2 separate regions of the Homo sapiens genome follow, and region 1 is linked to region 2. The links come from fine-mapping of genetic effects on gene expression. A gene starts in region 2. The other region holds a variant in brackets. All regions are shown on one strand. Distances are from middle to middle.

Region 1 (8,321 bases), 110 kb before region 2:
CTGGGCCCCTTTTTGAAGAGGAGAGAGCAGGCAGCTGTGGCCTTCACCTTCCCAGCTCCCGCCCCTCCATTGCCCATAGCAACTGCCTGTCCCCATGCCCAGCTGCACGCGGTTTTGGTGGAATTTCTAATTATGGTGCCCTGCTAGACTGGCCAAGGGGCTGGCATGAGACCCAAGCTTGGCCACCATATACTTTCTTCCTGGAATCAGGATATTGGCCAGAGAAACCCAAGGGCATTGAATGGCTAGAGTCAGTTTTTCTAATGGAAGTGGAACAAAGCATGTTCTTTTGTTCTGGCATAATTTTTTGACTATCTCAACTCCCTAAGAAGCAATTGTTTCTCTCTCTTCCAAGGCCTATTTTTCAGCTTTTCCTTCCAAAGCCCTTTCAATACACCTCTATTTAATTCACCAGAGTGGGTTTCCAATGTTTGAAACCCCAATTAAAATAGAAACAGTATAATGTGAACAGGGATAAGAGAGTGTAGGTTTCTGATTCACTGTGCTCACCACTTTACATTAAATAAGCTGTGTGTCCCTCTCTCTCCTAGTTACAAGCAGGATGCTTTGCCAAGGCCTGACTGTGTCTTTTTCTCTTCATATCCACAGTGCCCAGCTCAGGGTTGACTTCTCCTCTGCACCTGCCATGGTTTATAATTATGCATTTCTTTGTGGGATAATTTGTTTAATGTCATCTACTCTATGTTGGAAGTCCCATGAAAATAGAATGCATGGAGCCCAATTTATTAGGAAGACCAACTGTCCCAATTTGCCTGGGGTGGGGTGGGGGATTTCTGAGACATGGCTTCCAGGGCTAAAATCAGGAAAGTCCAGGGCAAATTGGAGCAGTGCCCACCCTACCAGTGTCTGGCATATAGGAAGTCTTCAAGCACCAGTTGTCCCGGTCACTCAAGGAATATATGTTGAGATGAACGGAGGCAAACTGCAGCACAGCAGAAGGCATATTCTTTCATGCAAAAACATTTCTTCATGCCTGCTGTGTGCCAGGTAACCAGCTTGTCAGAAGCAGAAGATTCAAGGAAGGAAATCCCAGCAGCCAGGGCTGCCATAGGATTGTAGGTTGAAATCACACTGCATGAGGTCTTGAGCATCAGGCTAAGAAACCAGCATGCAGCACCCAGATGAGGCAGGTCCCCTCTGATTTAGGAGAAGGGAGGAGATATGAAAACATAGTAATTTAGGAATGATGCATTGGCAGCGCCTCCCAGGGACTCTGATAAGGAAACCACTGCAGGAGGAATCCGCAGGGGCTACTGAAACAGGGGACAGAACCTGAAGTGAGCGGGTTATTTGGTTGTTTCTTTCCAAATTCTGCACTGGGCAGAGAGAGGGTTTAGCAACTTCCTTTTTCGTCTCAAGCACAGCCATCTGCTCAGTTCAACAAGCAGAAAATCCACCCCCAGGAAACGTGAATTTATTTGTGGGTATGTGATGGATCCTACGTCTTTACTCCTTAGGAAGATTCAGCTACACAACCCATGCCACGGGGCCATCCTCTTGATAGGTTTCAACTCTGTTGCTGAGCGGATGAGAACACGTTTATGTGCAGGTGCTATCGACAGTGTTTTTGTCTGCCTGCCCCCAACCCAGTCTTATATTGAAAGTGAACCCCCAGGCAATGGTATTAGTAGGGAGGCCTTTGGGAGGTGATTAGGTCATGAGGGTGGAGCCCCATTGATGAGATTAGTGCCCTTAGAAAGAGACCCCAGAGAGCTGCCTGGCCTCTTCTGCCATGTGAGGGCACAGCAAGAAGGAGCTGTCTGTGAACCACAAAGCAGACCCTCGTCAGATTCCAAACTGCCAGTGACTGATCTTCAACTTCCAGCCTCCAAAACTGCGAGGAATAAATTTCTGTAGTTTATAAGCCACCCAGTCTATGGTATTCTGCTATGGCAGCCTGGAATGACCAAGACAGCAGCCAAATGAACTTTTGGATGGGGCCTCGCAGACTTTCAGGGCCTGGAGATCCTCTGAGAAGAACATCTCTCTAATTCGGCTCCCTCATTTCAAAGCAGGGAAAGAATCTTATTTGCATGATATAATAAGCAAGAAGCTGGGGCTGGGCTGCTCTCTCTTTAACTCTTCTCAATAAAGAACTGAATCATACAATAGGGAGCCCCTTGCCCCTGGGGAGTAGGGGAAAGTGAAAAGACAGGGAAACAAATAGATTGCATCCTGTGGTAAGAGAGTTTTTCTCCTGTGAAAATTCTCTTTCAATCCTTGTCATTACACCAAGAAGAAAATCTCACTTTGGTACTAATAGGTCTTTAACGCCTCCCTCAAACTTTAACACCTCTCCAAATCTCCCTTTCAAATGGGAATCAAACAGGCCTCAAGCCCAGAGTCTTCCACAGGCAACCCTATTCCTCTAGAATTAAATATTCTAGAGTTTCATAATATCATTTTATTTTCGTGGTATATCTTTTTCTGGATAGCTTCTATTTGTAGCAGGTGGGATTGGCTTTCCATCTATGGTAGTAAGTTTTCCTTTTGAAGAAATGTATTTTAAGTTTTAAATGGGAGACAAGTTGAGGAAAAATAATGAGGGAAAGACTAGACCACATGATATGCAGTGATAGCAAAATTATCGGTAGACCTTAAACCATTGAAGTTTGAAAGCAGGAGTGGAGGACAGAGGGATGGGCTGGTGACCCTGGGGCCGCTCACCAGAGCAGGCTCCACACATGTTATTAAGCAAATGTCAAGCCTGAAATTTAAAAGGTGGCTCTTTAAATGAATTAGAGTCAGAGACACTGGAAAGTGCCAGGAAATTCTTCACGTGACCTTGAACAGACAGAAACCTCCTGAGATGAGAGAGTACAGGTCTATTATTTGACTTGGCAAAGGACCCTTCTGGTGGATAGGGGTGTCCCTTCTCTAAAAAATGATGTGCAGTGCATTTCTGTATGTTTCCTGTGAATAACCACTGAGGCACCAGCAAGGGGAGTCATGGGGGTAGAAGGACAGCCGCGGTAGCCATCACCCATTGAGACCCTGCTCAGCTCTGCCTGTGCTGCCAGGAGCCTCACCTCACCCTTTCAACAGCCCTTTCATGCTGATGCTAGTAACCTCTGACGCTTATGGAGCACACACTGTATGCCAACATCTCTTCAAAGCCTTCATTCATTCATTTAATCCAAACAGTAACCCAAGGAGACCATCATTATTACTCCCACTTTACAGATCAGAAAACTGAGGTGGAAAGGGTAGGTCACAGCTGGTGGTCAGTGGTAGAGGCAGATTCAAGCCCAGACATTCCGGCTCCAGAGCCTACACTCCAACTTTGTGGAGGGGAGTGACAGAGGAGGATGCACAGCTACTAAATTGTAAAGTCAGCAAAACCATCCTCCCCAAGGTGGCATTTCCCCCAAAAGCAAGCTATTGCATTAATTCAACAAATGTTTGTTGAGCATCTACTATGTGGGAAAGACCCTCTTTTTGTTCCAGTCATCGGCAGCTGGGGGCTCTAGGTCCATCCCTGCCCTCCCCGAAGCAGGAGAGTAACCTTGTAGACTTCCTGTTAGGGCCCTGGGGTCTCTGGGTGAATTTGATGCAGACTCAGCCATTAGCCTGGCTGGGCCACAAAATCAGGAAGCTTAGACCAGTGTTGTGGAACCTTGATTCCTGTCCCAGTTTTGTCATTTCCTGCCTCAGCCTCTTTGCAACTCCCGGCCTCAATTGCCTCACCTCCAAAATGGAG[G/A]TCTTAATGACAATGGTCTGGCTTCACTCACAGGGTTATCGTGAAAATCAAAAGAGATTGCTCAGGGAAAAGCCTCTTCAAACTGGAGCTCCAGGTGATGGTTGTCATCTGTCGATGTTGCTCTCTGGTGAGTTCTTTAAAAATGGAAATTACTGTTTGTTTCTAATTACAAAAGTTCAGGAGTTACAGAATAGCACACAGATTTTTAAACACGGTTTATTACCCCACTACTTGTTAATAATCTCTACTAACCTGTTGGTGTATTTCCTTCCGGATACATAAAGAGAGTTGAACCCTGAACGATATGGAAGTTGGGGTGTTGACCCCCCTCAGAGTTGAAAATCTGCATACAACTTTTGACTCCCCAAAACACTACAGATAGCCTACTGTTGACTGCAAGCCTTGCTGAGAACATAAACAGTCAATTAACATATTTTGTATGTTATATGTATTGTATACTGTATTCTTACAATAAAGGAAGCTAGAGTAAAGAAAATGTTATTGAGAAAATCATAAGGAAGAGAAAGTATATTTACGTTCACTACGCAGAAGTGACTCAGCATAAAGGTCTTCACCCTTGTCATCATCAACTCGAGTAGGCTGAGGAGGAGGAAAAGGAGTGGTTGGTCCTGCTCTCTCAGGGGTGGCAGAGGTGGAAGAAAAGTCACCTGTAAGTGGACCTGTGCAGTTCAAACCTGTGTTGTTTGAAGGTCAACTGTATGATGATTGCCTACATAGAACCCGGTAGCTTTCTACAGCACTTGGAAGGAAATCCACACTCCTTATCAACACTTCACCTTGACTTTCAGTCTGTGTGATCTGGCCCTGCTTGCCTCTCCTACCTCTTCTCTCTCTACTCACACATTATTTCTCTTTCTTTTTCCCTCCTAATACACCAATGGCATTTCCCCTCAAGGCCTTCGCCTCTTTGCCTGAAATGCTCTGGATTTCATGACTCTGGAAATCATGACTGGATTTTTTTTTTTTCAGCGTGCAAGTCATGGCCGAAATGTCACCTCCTTGGATAGTCCCTCCATCTTCACGCACACTAAACTAGTCCATCTTGCATGCCTTTCTTCATGGCATTGTGTGCCATGCTCAGAAATTATCTTGTGTATTCTTAAGTCCATATATGTATTACCTGTCTTTCCCTAAACAACTTCCCACCCTGAGCTTGTTCCTGTCCATATTCCCAGTACCCAGAATGGTGCTTGGCATACAGCACATCTTCATTACATAGTTAATAAGTGAATGAATTGGATTAATGTACTTGTGAGCTAGGATCATACTATATTTAATGTTTTTATAACTGATTTTTCCCTGCTATGGTGTGACCACCTTGACTTTGAATGGAAGTGTAGCATTCCCTTGTATGGGTGGATCAAAATTTCTTTTCTTTTCTTTTTTTTTTTTTTTTTGAGACTGAATCTCACTCTATCACCCAGGCTGGAGTGCAGTGGCACGATCTCTGCTCACTGCAACCTCTGCCTCCCAGGTTCAAGTGATTCTTGTGCCTCAGCCTCCTGAATAGCTGGGATTATAGGCACACACCATCATGCCAGGCTAATTTTTGTAGAGACGGGGTTTCACCATATTGGCTCGAATTCCTGACCTCAGGTGATCTGCCTGCCTCAGCCTCCAAAAGTGCTGGGATTACAGCCATGAGCCACTGCACCCGGCCTGGATCATAATTTTTAACTAAGCCCCCATTACTGACTAGGTGGGACATTTCTGATTCTTGTGTTTGTAAGTTAATACTACATTCTACAGTGACCATCTTTGTCCATACACACATTTTCTCATCTCTCCATGACCACTTCCCTTGGATTAATTCCTAGCAGTAAAATTGAGGGAACAAAGGGTTACATCGTTTTAATCCTCTTCATATATATTACCATGGTCTGCAGAAAGGTTGTATCATCTCTGAGTTTGCTGTAATGGCCCTTAGCTTGTGGGCTTCTCAGCAGAATGCTCTGAAGACCATGGAAATATCATTGTCTCCTCTTACCCAGGAGAGTAAAGGTTGAGGCCCTCCAGCAAGACAGATCATGCCCACTTACTCTGCAGAAACTTCCTCCCTTTCCAATAACAGGAACAACTCCTAGCTCTGCTGCTCAGGCCCAATGTGTGATACACAGGAATCCCCTAAGCAGTGATGTTCCGAAGTTAGAAGTCACCCCAGCCAGGCTGAAGAGCTTATCATTCAAGAAGCTAATACCAGCCAGCCAGACTGTGCCAGCTCAACCTTCCTCCTTTTGTTCTCCAAAGCACACCTTGCCTTGGTTACCTGACCTTCACTAAGCTCAGCCCATATTTGGCCAAACCATCTGGGCCTCTGCTCAACGTGCCTTTGCTTTGTTACCTGTTCCACATCATTTTTCAAGGTCTAGCTTTACTCCCCACCTAAACTTTCACCTTCTAGAAAGCCCCTTTTCATAGTACAGCTCTCAGGGAGATCTCCCAGCCCAGAACTGCCCATAACTCTGATTACCAGCCTCTCCGTCAGCATTTGCCCATCTAACCACTTTGTGTTGTTTATATACCTTTGTGCATGAGTAACTCTAAATTTTCAACTGAGTGTTTTTCTCTCTCTGGGAGCTCACGCATAGTGTGACAGTCAGAACCTTTGAGATAATCAGGGCTGGGATTGAGCCTCAACTCTGCCACCCACTAGTTCTGTGCATTTGGGCAGCACAGTCAACTCTACTGAGCCTCAGTTGCTCCATCTATAAAATGGGGGTTACTATAGCACGAATTTGAAAAGATTGCTCCAAGAATTCGATGCATGCAAAATACTTAGCATAGTGCCTCCCACAGAATGATTATTAAAAAATCAGCAGCAGGCCGGGAGCGGTGGCTCATGCCTGCAATCCCAGCACTTTGGGAGGCTGAGGCGGGCAGATTGCCTAAGCTCAGGAGTTCGTGATTAGCTTTGGCAACATGGTGAAACATCGTCTCTACTAAAATACAAAAAATTAGCCACCCGAGATGGTGTGCCCCTGTGGTCCCAGCTATTTGGGAGGCTGAGGCAGGAGAATTGCTTGAACCCGAGACGTGGAGCTTGCAGTGAGCCGAGATGGCACCACTGCACTTCAGCCTCGGTGACAGAGTGAAACTCCGTCTTAAAAAACAAAAACAAAAACAAAAAACAGCAACAAAATGGGGATATTCATCCTAATTTTGTTTTTCTAGACCTCTACAAAGGCTGAGCCAGTAATGTGTACAATGTTAAAAGAAATATTTGTGGAATGGAATGAGCGGATGTTGTGTAAACATTCATTGTGCGTGTACGTATTTAGTTCTACTAACCAGAACACTGGGGGACCAGAACCAGTTACCCCAGTGTCTAGAGAGGAGGAAAGAAATCTCTCTCCTTAGCTGAAACCTTAGTAAGAGCTCAGTCCAGAGCTTGCTTGAAAGTAAAGATATGTCATCCAATTTAATCCCCACACCAACCTTACAGAAAGATCTTTTTATATCCTTATGCTAAGAAGACCTACCACTGACTGTGCCAGATCTGTGCAAGATGCTTTTGAAAAATGTAATTCCCTTTAAGCCCTCACACTATCTCAATGAGACAAGAATTATTATTACTGAAGAGGAAATGGGGTCAGAAAGTTTAAGTGAACTGCTCAAGGGCAAATGGGTAGTAAGAGAAGAAAGAAGATGAGTCAGGATTGAACAGAGGCTTACTCTGTTCAAATAAATAAAATTAAATTAAAACGGTTGCCTCTTCACCAACTGATTCCCTGACATTCTCACATGCGTTCAGTTGGTGCTTAATAGGAACTGAATTGAAATCTCATGGTGATCTGTTAGAGACTTGGATCTTCTAATAGATGCTTCAAAGGGAGCAGTTTCTATTTCCGGTGCCCACGGAGATCTCGAGGGAGATTTCTCCCCACCCCTGCTCTGACGTCACGATGTTCTTGTTTTTCTCTGGGCCCTGTGACTCAGCACATGGCTCCAGATGGCTTCCTGCATTTCCAGCCTGTTGGCTGGGGTGCCCAGGCCCTGGTAAAGTAAGCAAACCAAAACTAAGTTGCAACAAAGCATCAACACCTCCCTGCCCCTGCCCTCTGTTATGAAGTCTTTGTAGTCCACTACTCATGATGGCCAGTCCCTCCATTTCTCCCCTCCCTCCTTGCCCTGAGATCCCCACACTTGGCCCCAGCACATCTGATGCCTGAAGATGAGATCCAGGAGTGATCATTCTCCCAGCAACCAGTGAATGGGCAAAGGGGCAGTTCTTTCACCCTTTGATCCTTTATTGACTTTAGGCAATTTACTTTCTCAGCCTCAGTGATCAAATGGGGACGCTAATATTGTCTACTTCTGAGGGTTGTAGAGTTAGGGTTGCCAGATAAAATACAGAAAGTCCAGTTACATTTGAATGTCAGATAAATGATGATTTTTTTCAGTACGCATGTCCCAAATATTGCTCAAATTTAACTGTGTGTCTCATGACTTTATTTGTTAAATCTGGCAACCTTATGTGGAGTGTGGAGTCAGATAACAAACGCAAAAATGCTTTGTCACCTACAGAAAGCTGTACACTTCATGATATCTTTTCCATGAGACGTATGCATGTGTACCCATG
Region 2 (8,322 bases):
ATGGTTACCATGGGAAGTTTCTGAGGCCAGAATGTTTTCAAGGAGCGCAGCCCTGGGCTCTGGGTATCCTGGGTTCCTGAGTAGGCAACTGATGCCAAAAAAAAAAAAGAAAAAAGAAAAGAAAATAATAGATTTCCCCCTTCCTTCTTCCATACTTCCAGTCCCTAAGCAAGAGTCTGATGTCTTAGTGATCATCCTAGCTGCAAACCATCCCAATCTACTGCCCACACCTGACTTAGCCTTAAAAGATTAGCCCGACTTGGCAGCACCTGACTGTGGCCCTGGGCGTCTCCACCTTTTATCAACCAAGACAAGTTCCTGGATTCCCTTGTGCACACAGCTGCTTCTAGGCAAAAGACACTTGTGAAGGAATTCCCTGCATTTAATGTGTTACAAAGGAAGTGACATTTTTGATCACCTCTGATATGGTTTGGCTCTGTGTCCCCACCCAACTCTTATCTCAAATTGTAATCCTTATGTGTAGACAGAGGGAGGTGATTGGATCAAGGGGGCAGTTTCCCCATGCTGTTCTCCTGATAGTGAGTTCTCATGAGCTCTGATGGTTTTATAAGTGTTTGACAGTTCTTCTTTCACTCTGGTCTCTCCTGCCGCCTTGTGAAGAAAGTGCTTGCTTCCCCTTCGCCTTCCGGCATGATTGTAAGTTTCCTGAGGCTTCCCCAGTCACGTGGAACTGTGAGTCAATTAAACCTCTTTCCTTTATAAATTACCCAGTCTTGGGCATTTCTTTATAGCAGTGTGAAAATGGACTAATAAAACTTTTTAGGAGTCCAGCACTTCACATGTATCCCATGTAATTTACAAACTTAGCAAGAGAGGAAATATCATTCACATTTTATCTAGAAGGAACCAAGGGCTTATAGAGGTGATGCCCAGTTTTGCACAGCTAGGAAGCAGCAGAGCTGGGATTCAAATTCAGGGCTGTTTGGTTCCAAAGGTGCTCTTTTTTCCAAGTCATGGCTGCCATTTTAGCCACTGATAATTAGTAGCTCTGAGGGACCCTAAACCATCTTCTGGGCATGGAACATTCATTTGTTCATTCAATAAATGTGTTCTGAGTTTTGAGTCTGCTCTGTGCCAGACCCTCTTCTGGCCACTGGGGACATAAAGATAAATCAGACACAACCTCTGCCCTTAAGAAACTAACCCACTGACAACCAGCAGTAATTAAAAGAGAGCAATCTACAAGACATTAGAGAGAGGGCCAGTCAAGGAAACCATTCTGGCGGAAAAGACACCTGACGGAACCAGCTAAGTTTCCAGGCATGTCCAGTTGTAGGGAATAAACAGCAGGTAAGACCCAATCTCTATGCTCAAAGAATCCATAGTAGAGTTACAGAGACAAGACTCATGCTCATGGCACAATGAAAGAGAATAAAATCACCGATTGAAGGCCCTCAGGTGTTCTACACGGAAGTGATGGAGGATTGACAGACTGAGGCAGAAGTTGAGACCATTAGAGGAAGGCTATGGAAATGAAATGGAAGCCACCTTTGTTCATACTATTTTTCATTAATCTTGGTATCTTTTTTTTCCCTCTAGTTGTGCCAGTTACTTCTGGCTCTACCCTGATTTCTTTGTTCATTTTTCTTCCTGCTAAAGGAAAATACTCACTTATTTAACATATTTAAAGCTGTGCTGAGAGCAAAGCATTATCCTAAGCCCTGATGGTGGTCATAGCGTTGGGAATGTACAAAGATAAACAGGACATTAAAGCCCTTGAGTACCAAACATAATGAAAAGTCTGATATGTGAGCTCCAAACCAAATGGCAAAAGGAAGGAAATAATTAATTCAGACTTGGAAACAGGAGTGAGGGGTGGGGGGTGGGTGACGGGTGGAAGGGGTGGCAGTGGGTTGGGGGGCTGTCACTCAGGGAAGACTTCATTGTTGCTGGTTTGTTCATTCACGTTTTCAGGATTCATTCACTGATGTCTCCTATCTACAATGTCTGCTCCTGAAAGAGCCCACGGTCCAGCACAGGTCTGGAAGACATAAACCATCACAATATAGTGTGAGAAACAAGCACGAGAGGTACACAGGGCCGTGGACGCTTATAAGAGAGAATTCAGAAGATGCTGTTGGTGGCTTTTGAACTGATTCCTAGAAATAAATAGGAATTTACCAAAGGAGAAGAGTGGAAAGGACATGTAAAAAGGCATTGAGAGTGTGTTTGGAGGGGGAAGAGGCACTAAGATATACCACCCATTAGGTAGAAAGGCTTGAATACCAGACTAACAAGTTTGGCCTTTATCTTCGAAATAATGGGCAACCATAGAAGAAATCGGAGCATGTGAGGGTCAAGATAAAATTTTAGTTTTGGAATTTTCCCTCTGGTATTGCGTGTAAGGTGTACTAGATCGGGATGATACGGGGGCATAGCCACAGACGCCTCAGCTGCATCTCTGCACCTGGGAGACTGCACCAGATGCGAGCCTAGCAGAATGGGAGAGTGGGAGGTGCGGGTGAGCGAATGGAAGGTTAAGGGAGAGTCCCTCGTGAGGTCTACATTCTGGGCAAGGGCAAACGCAGTTCTAGGCACCGCACAGCTGCTGGCAAGACCCGCCTCCCCTTCCAGATCCCTCTGGGGCGGAGCTCGGGCCAGAGCACGTGATGCTTGGAGCACCACCTTTACTGTGGGCACCCTTCTCATTCATCCGCGGTTTCACGGGCCGCCACTTCGATCTCCAACACCTTGACCGTATGCCTTCGTGAGCGAGGAATCCGTTCTCCTTGACACGTCCCTATTGCTCCTCCTGCAAAGCCCAGTTAGGGAAGAGAAATATCAAAGGAGTCCCTTGCCCACACAAAAGATGGCGACCTGCTGCGCTCACTCTGGGTGGGGGAAGCGGGTTCCAGGCGCCGGGCCTCACTAGGCGAGGCGCAGACGGAAGAGGCGTCTCTGGAGGTAACTTTTCGACCTTCCTGGGAGTAGCTCTGAAGCGAGGGGGCGTGGCCTCGCCTGAGTTCTAACAGATGATTGGTCTTCCGGCAGGTAGGTGGGGAATGAGTGCTACCCCCACCCCTCCCTCTTCGAACCGGAAGTGTCTCTGGGTCTTTCCAGCTGGTTGTCATTTCACTCGGCTCGGTCCTGAGGAGAAGGACTCAGCCGCGGCTGCGGGACCCGGGCACCGGGAGGCGGTGGCGGCGGCGGCGGCGGCAGCAGCGGCGACAGCAGAGGAGGAAGAGGAGGAAGAAGGAAAGAAAAAGAAGAACCAGGAGGAGTCCTCAACAACGACAGCGGGGACTGCGGGACCAGGGTAAAGCGGCGACGGCGGCGACGGCCCAGCAACCGTGAGGAGAAACAAAAGCCTTCTAAATTATAGTTTAAAAAAAAATTCTGGGGGAAAAGAGAGAGAAAGCCGAGGGGGGAGGCCCTTCTCCTTTAAAATAACTACGGTAGTGGGTTTTTCCTTTTTTTCCTCTTTTTTCCCTCTCTGCGGAGAATCGAACTGAGGGAACTGAACAAACCGCCCCTGGGTCCCATGAGGGAAAAAAACCCCGGAGCCGCAGAGAGGGGAAGAGGCAGAAACCGCAGGACCTTCCAGGTCGCCCCCTCGGTCCCCGCACCCCCAGGCCGCCCGCTCACCCTCGTCGAGTCTCGCTAATCCCTCCTGATCGCGACCCCCGCAAGAGGGAGAAACGGGTGTTTCCAACCCCTTTCATGGGGGAGAGGAAGCCGCGGGGAGCCCAGGAACAGCGACCGCAGCAAGATCTGCACCCGGAGCCTCAGGAACAGCCCCAGAGGCCAAAACTGCACCCTGCGAAAGAGCAGAAAACAGGACCAGGAACAGCAGAAACCTCCCTGCAATCATCTTTCCATTAGTCAATGCTGATTTCCTCTCCCGAAACCAGGAATTCACTTCCCACCCCAGATAACCTAATATAATCTATATATATAAATATATAATATATAATGTTCTTAAATTATTCCTGATTTTTTTTTAACCAAGCTGCCAAGAAAAGAACGTATTCCCCTCTTAGTCCTATTCTAATTTTTATGTGAGTGAATCTAAACTGCTGAGGAAAACCATATGTGATTGTTAAATTATATATATCTATATTTTTACTCCGCGCAAGGCTTATTCTTCTACATCCATAGATGCTTGAGAAGCTCTGTTTTTGTCATTCATGTACATTTTCCTTTGGAAAAAGAAAGCGCCTATTTTACTAACCAAAGACTTGATTTTTACCCTCTTCATTTTTATTCCCTCCTAAAAATAAGCCCAATTGGATCCAAGTCAATGTTTTAAGAGATTTTTTTAAGAGTTGTTTTTTCTTTCAGAGACCAGAATTCCAAATCAGAACAATTTAAGGTGATAAGCTGCGATCTTTGAGCTAGCTATAAATAAGACATTTCAAGCAAGCAAGCAAACAACTTAAATTTGGGGTAGAGGAAAAAAAAGGCGTGAGACATCAGGTTGTCATTTTTTATTGTGAGATTCTGCTCCTAAAGATAATAAATGGGGGATTACGGGTTTGGAGTGCTAGTGCAAAGCAATACTGGGAATAAATCTGCTTTTCCAGTCAGATTCCATCCACATCTGCAGCCTCCACACCATCACCAAAATGCCACCCCCAGCCCTGCTGCTTTTATAAATAATAACACAGCTGCCAATGGCAGCAGTGCTGGGTCAGCTTGGCTTTTTCCTGCTCCAGCTACCCATAACATTCAGGATGAGATCTTGGGGTCAGAAAAAGCAAAAAGTCAGCAACAGGAACAGCAAGACCCCTTAGAAAAGCAGCAGCTTTCCCCAAGTCCAGGTCAGGAAGCTGGAATACTGCCTGAAACAGAGAAGGCAAAATCAGAAGAAAATCAAGGGGACAATTCTTCGGAAAATGGCAATGGGAAGGAGAAAATAAGGATCGAATCTCCAGTGTTGACAGGGTTTGATTATCAAGAAGCCACTGGGCTAGGTACTTCAACCCAACCCTTGACATCTAGCGCATCGTCTCTTACTGGTTTCAGTAACTGGTCAGCAGCGATAGCGCCTTCCTCCTCTACAATAATCAATGAAGATGCAAGTTTCTTTCACCAGGGAGGGGTCCCTGCTGCTTCGGCTAATAACGGTGCTCTGTTGTTTCAAAATTTCCCCCATCATGTCAGCCCTGGCTTTGGAGGCAGCTTCTCTCCTCAGATCGGGCCTCTCTCACAGCACCACCCACATCACCCTCATTTCCAGCATCATCACAGCCAGCATCAGCAGCAAAGGAGGTCTCCTGCCAGTCCCCATCCCCCACCCTTCACACATAGAAATGCTGCTTTTAACCAGCTGCCTCATTTGGCGAATAATCTTAACAAACCCCCCTCTCCGTGGAGCAGCTACCAGAGTCCGTCACCAACACCCTCCTCTTCCTGGAGCCCGGGCGGTGGTGGATATGGTGGCTGGGGAGGTTCCCAAGGCCGAGATCACCGCAGAGGGCTGAATGGTGGAATAACGCCCCTGAACTCCATCTCGCCTTTGAAGAAAAATTTTGCAAGCAATCATATTCAGCTCCAGAAGTATGCTCGCCCCAGCTCTGCCTTTGCACCTAAATCCTGGATGGAAGATAGCTTGAACAGGGCTGACAACATTTTTCCTTTTCCGGTAAGATTATGTTCCATTAATAGATTAGGATGAATAAGGAAATAGCATGGTGTAATATCTATGTAACTAGAGTTTGAAGTGCCCGTATTCACATCAGAGCTTTTCTTAGAGAGAAAATGAATCAATAACCAGACTTTATTTTAGCAGGAGTGTAATTGGAACAAAATATTCAGCTGTTTCTTTGGCAGTTTTCTAAATTGTAGCCTTAATCTTGTCATAGATAATTATGAATACCTGGTAGCTGGTGATGTAGTAATTATTAACTATAATACCTTTCTTGCCTGACATGAGAATCAGGGTCAGTTTTTTCCCTATTTAGATGAGAATAAATAATATATAGATATAAATATATTTCATTGCAGAAACTATTGAATGTTTTCTGAAGTAACTATATAACTAAACAAATTTCTTTTGACACTATAAGGTAGTGATTCACTGAAAACCAGCTATTGAATTACAGTTTTCTCACTGGTTGGTTGCATTTTAAACCTGGAAACTCTCTGAACCTTGTAGGTCTGAACAGCCTGAATTGATGGACTTGGCAATTCCTCTTAAACCTCTGCAAATTTTGGCCTACCTTTCATCAGTAAGGACTATCTAGTGAGAGAAATGATCTAAATGTTTTCTTCATCCCCATTTATTTTTGAACACTGTGAAACTGTTCATCTCAGAGTGACTCTTTATGCCTTTCACCCGTTTGTTTATTTTCCAATGTTAACATTGAAGATGTAGATAATTAAACCATTCCTAAAAATAGATCCAGGCAAAGATCATTTGTCTTTCTTGCTACCAGAATATCTTTATTCTGGCAAGAGTCATTGATGTTTTTGAATTAATGAGCAGCAAGTTAGGTTGATATGAACTAGATAAAGGGAATTTCATAGGTGGTTGAACGTCAGATGCTCCACTAAATGTATATACTTTGAGGGTATGATTATATGTGTTTAGGAAATTTATAAGGGGTAAGAATCTAGCATTGAATCTAGTTTTCCCAACAACCTCACAAGATGAGTTCTGTTATTATCCCCATTTTACAGATGCAGAAATTGAATATGAGAAATATATAATAACTTAGCCAAGGGTACACAGCTGGTCAGAGTACAAATTCTAAGTTAAAAAAAAAAACAAACCCAAGGATTGAAAATATGTATACATACATGTGTGCACGTACACATGTGCTACAGCTAGAGGGTTACTTTAGAAATATTTCTGCAAAGGCTGAAACAGATTATAGAATCATTGCACTGTTCCCAAATACGATGTTAGCCCTAGCAGAATTATCTGTTTTAATTAGTAATTGACTGAGAGGGAGGGGAAGTTTGCTAAGAGAACCCTATGTCATTCCTTTCCTAAGGATTCAGGTGCAGTGCATCTTAAAATATGTGGGTATATTTAGTTTTCGACTTCTAAAAACGATTTTTTTTTTTTTTTGCCTATCAAAAAGCTGTTGGCATTTGCTTTAAAGGGTTTCAGTTGTTAAAACCAAAGATCAATTACTGTGCTTTAGTGGTCAAGTAAAAAGGCTGTTTAAGACATTGACAATCCCATGAAGTCTATTTTTAAAAAGTTGCCTTTGATATTCCTTTGAACATAAATTTAAAGAAAATTTAATGCAAAGATAAGTTTTATGAATTATTCTTATATTGCTAATTTAAAAATTGTAAGTTAACATTCAGTACATTTTAACTGGATTAAGATTTGGCTCAGAACTAAATACACCTTTTTTTCTTATTTTGCTACTATATGCTGACACAGTGAATTTATGTGGCCTCACAGTTTGGTTCCCATTCTCAGCTTACTGACTTTTGTTAAGATTGCTTTAGGAAAAATGAAAAGTTCAGACAATGAATAAAATATACATATATGCACATTAATATTTTTTCCTATTGGGCTAATAGAGTGTGTGTTATGTGTGAAATCTTTTTGAACAGTTTCTTTGGAGATTAAGTTGATTTATGAAATAATAGTTAGACTAAGATTGATACTAAAATATATTGTTAGAAACTAACTCTTCCCTTAGAACTGCTGTCTTTTATATTGATTATGGGAAAAGGATGGTCAGTGTACCTGACTTTCAAATATGGTAAGATTCAAAAGTAAATTGTTAATTCTGCTCCTCATCCCCACCATTTGTAGCTCTGTGTGTGTGTGTGTGTGTGTGTGTGTGTGTGTGTGTGTGAGAGAGAGAGAGAGAGAGCACACGCACACATGTATGAGGAGAGAGCTAGCAGTGGGGTGATTTGAAAGTCACAAGAGAAATAAATGATTTGAAAAAAATCTCTATGACAAGAAACTCCTAATTGGGTTTTGAAAAAGTCTAAAGAAGTAAGTAAACTGACCACTGTGATTCTTACTTAAATGGATACAGTTCTTTTTGCTTTTTAAAAACCAATAATTCTTGTGAATTAGTTATTTTTGAGAAAAAGTATCATTTTAAGTTGGTATAAGTAACTTGGTTAAATTTGTCTTATTTAAATTTATAACTTGCAGGCACGTGCCTGTAATCCCAGCTACTTGGGAGGCTGAGGCAGAAGGATTGCATGAGCCCAGGAGTTTGGGACCAACTTGGGCAACATAGTGAGACCCCCGTCTCAAAAAAAAATAATTTATAACTTAAACACTATTAATTTTAGGAAAGAAATTTTATAGATATTAGCACTTCAATTTAATTACTATTAAAATAATTCCTTTCTTCTGCAATATTTCTCACAGGGGAA

Evidence for each region.
Region 1: its variant is fine-mapped to the expression of CPEB4 in whole blood (INTERVAL, PIP above 0.99).

What each region holds. Positions count from the first base shown.
Region 1 is chr5:173,774,594-173,782,914 of GRCh38, forward strand. LOC107986482 (a long non-coding RNA gene) reads left to right here and starts at 3,683. Exons shown (of 2, transcript XR_001743004.2): 1 at 3,683-3,848. RefSeq lists enhancers at 3,177-4,376, 4,133-4,427, 4,253-4,472, 7,603-7,747 and a cis regulatory region at 7,670-7,680. The variant G/A (reference allele first, on the strand shown) is at 3,722.
Region 2 is chr5:173,885,254-173,893,575 of GRCh38, forward strand. CPEB4 (cytoplasmic polyadenylation element binding protein 4) reads left to right here and starts at 3,096. Exons shown (of 10, transcript NM_030627.4): 1 at 3,096-5,605. The coding sequence starts at 4,481. RefSeq lists enhancers at 2,603-2,842, 4,867-5,368, 5,369-5,868 and a silencer at 5,373-5,667.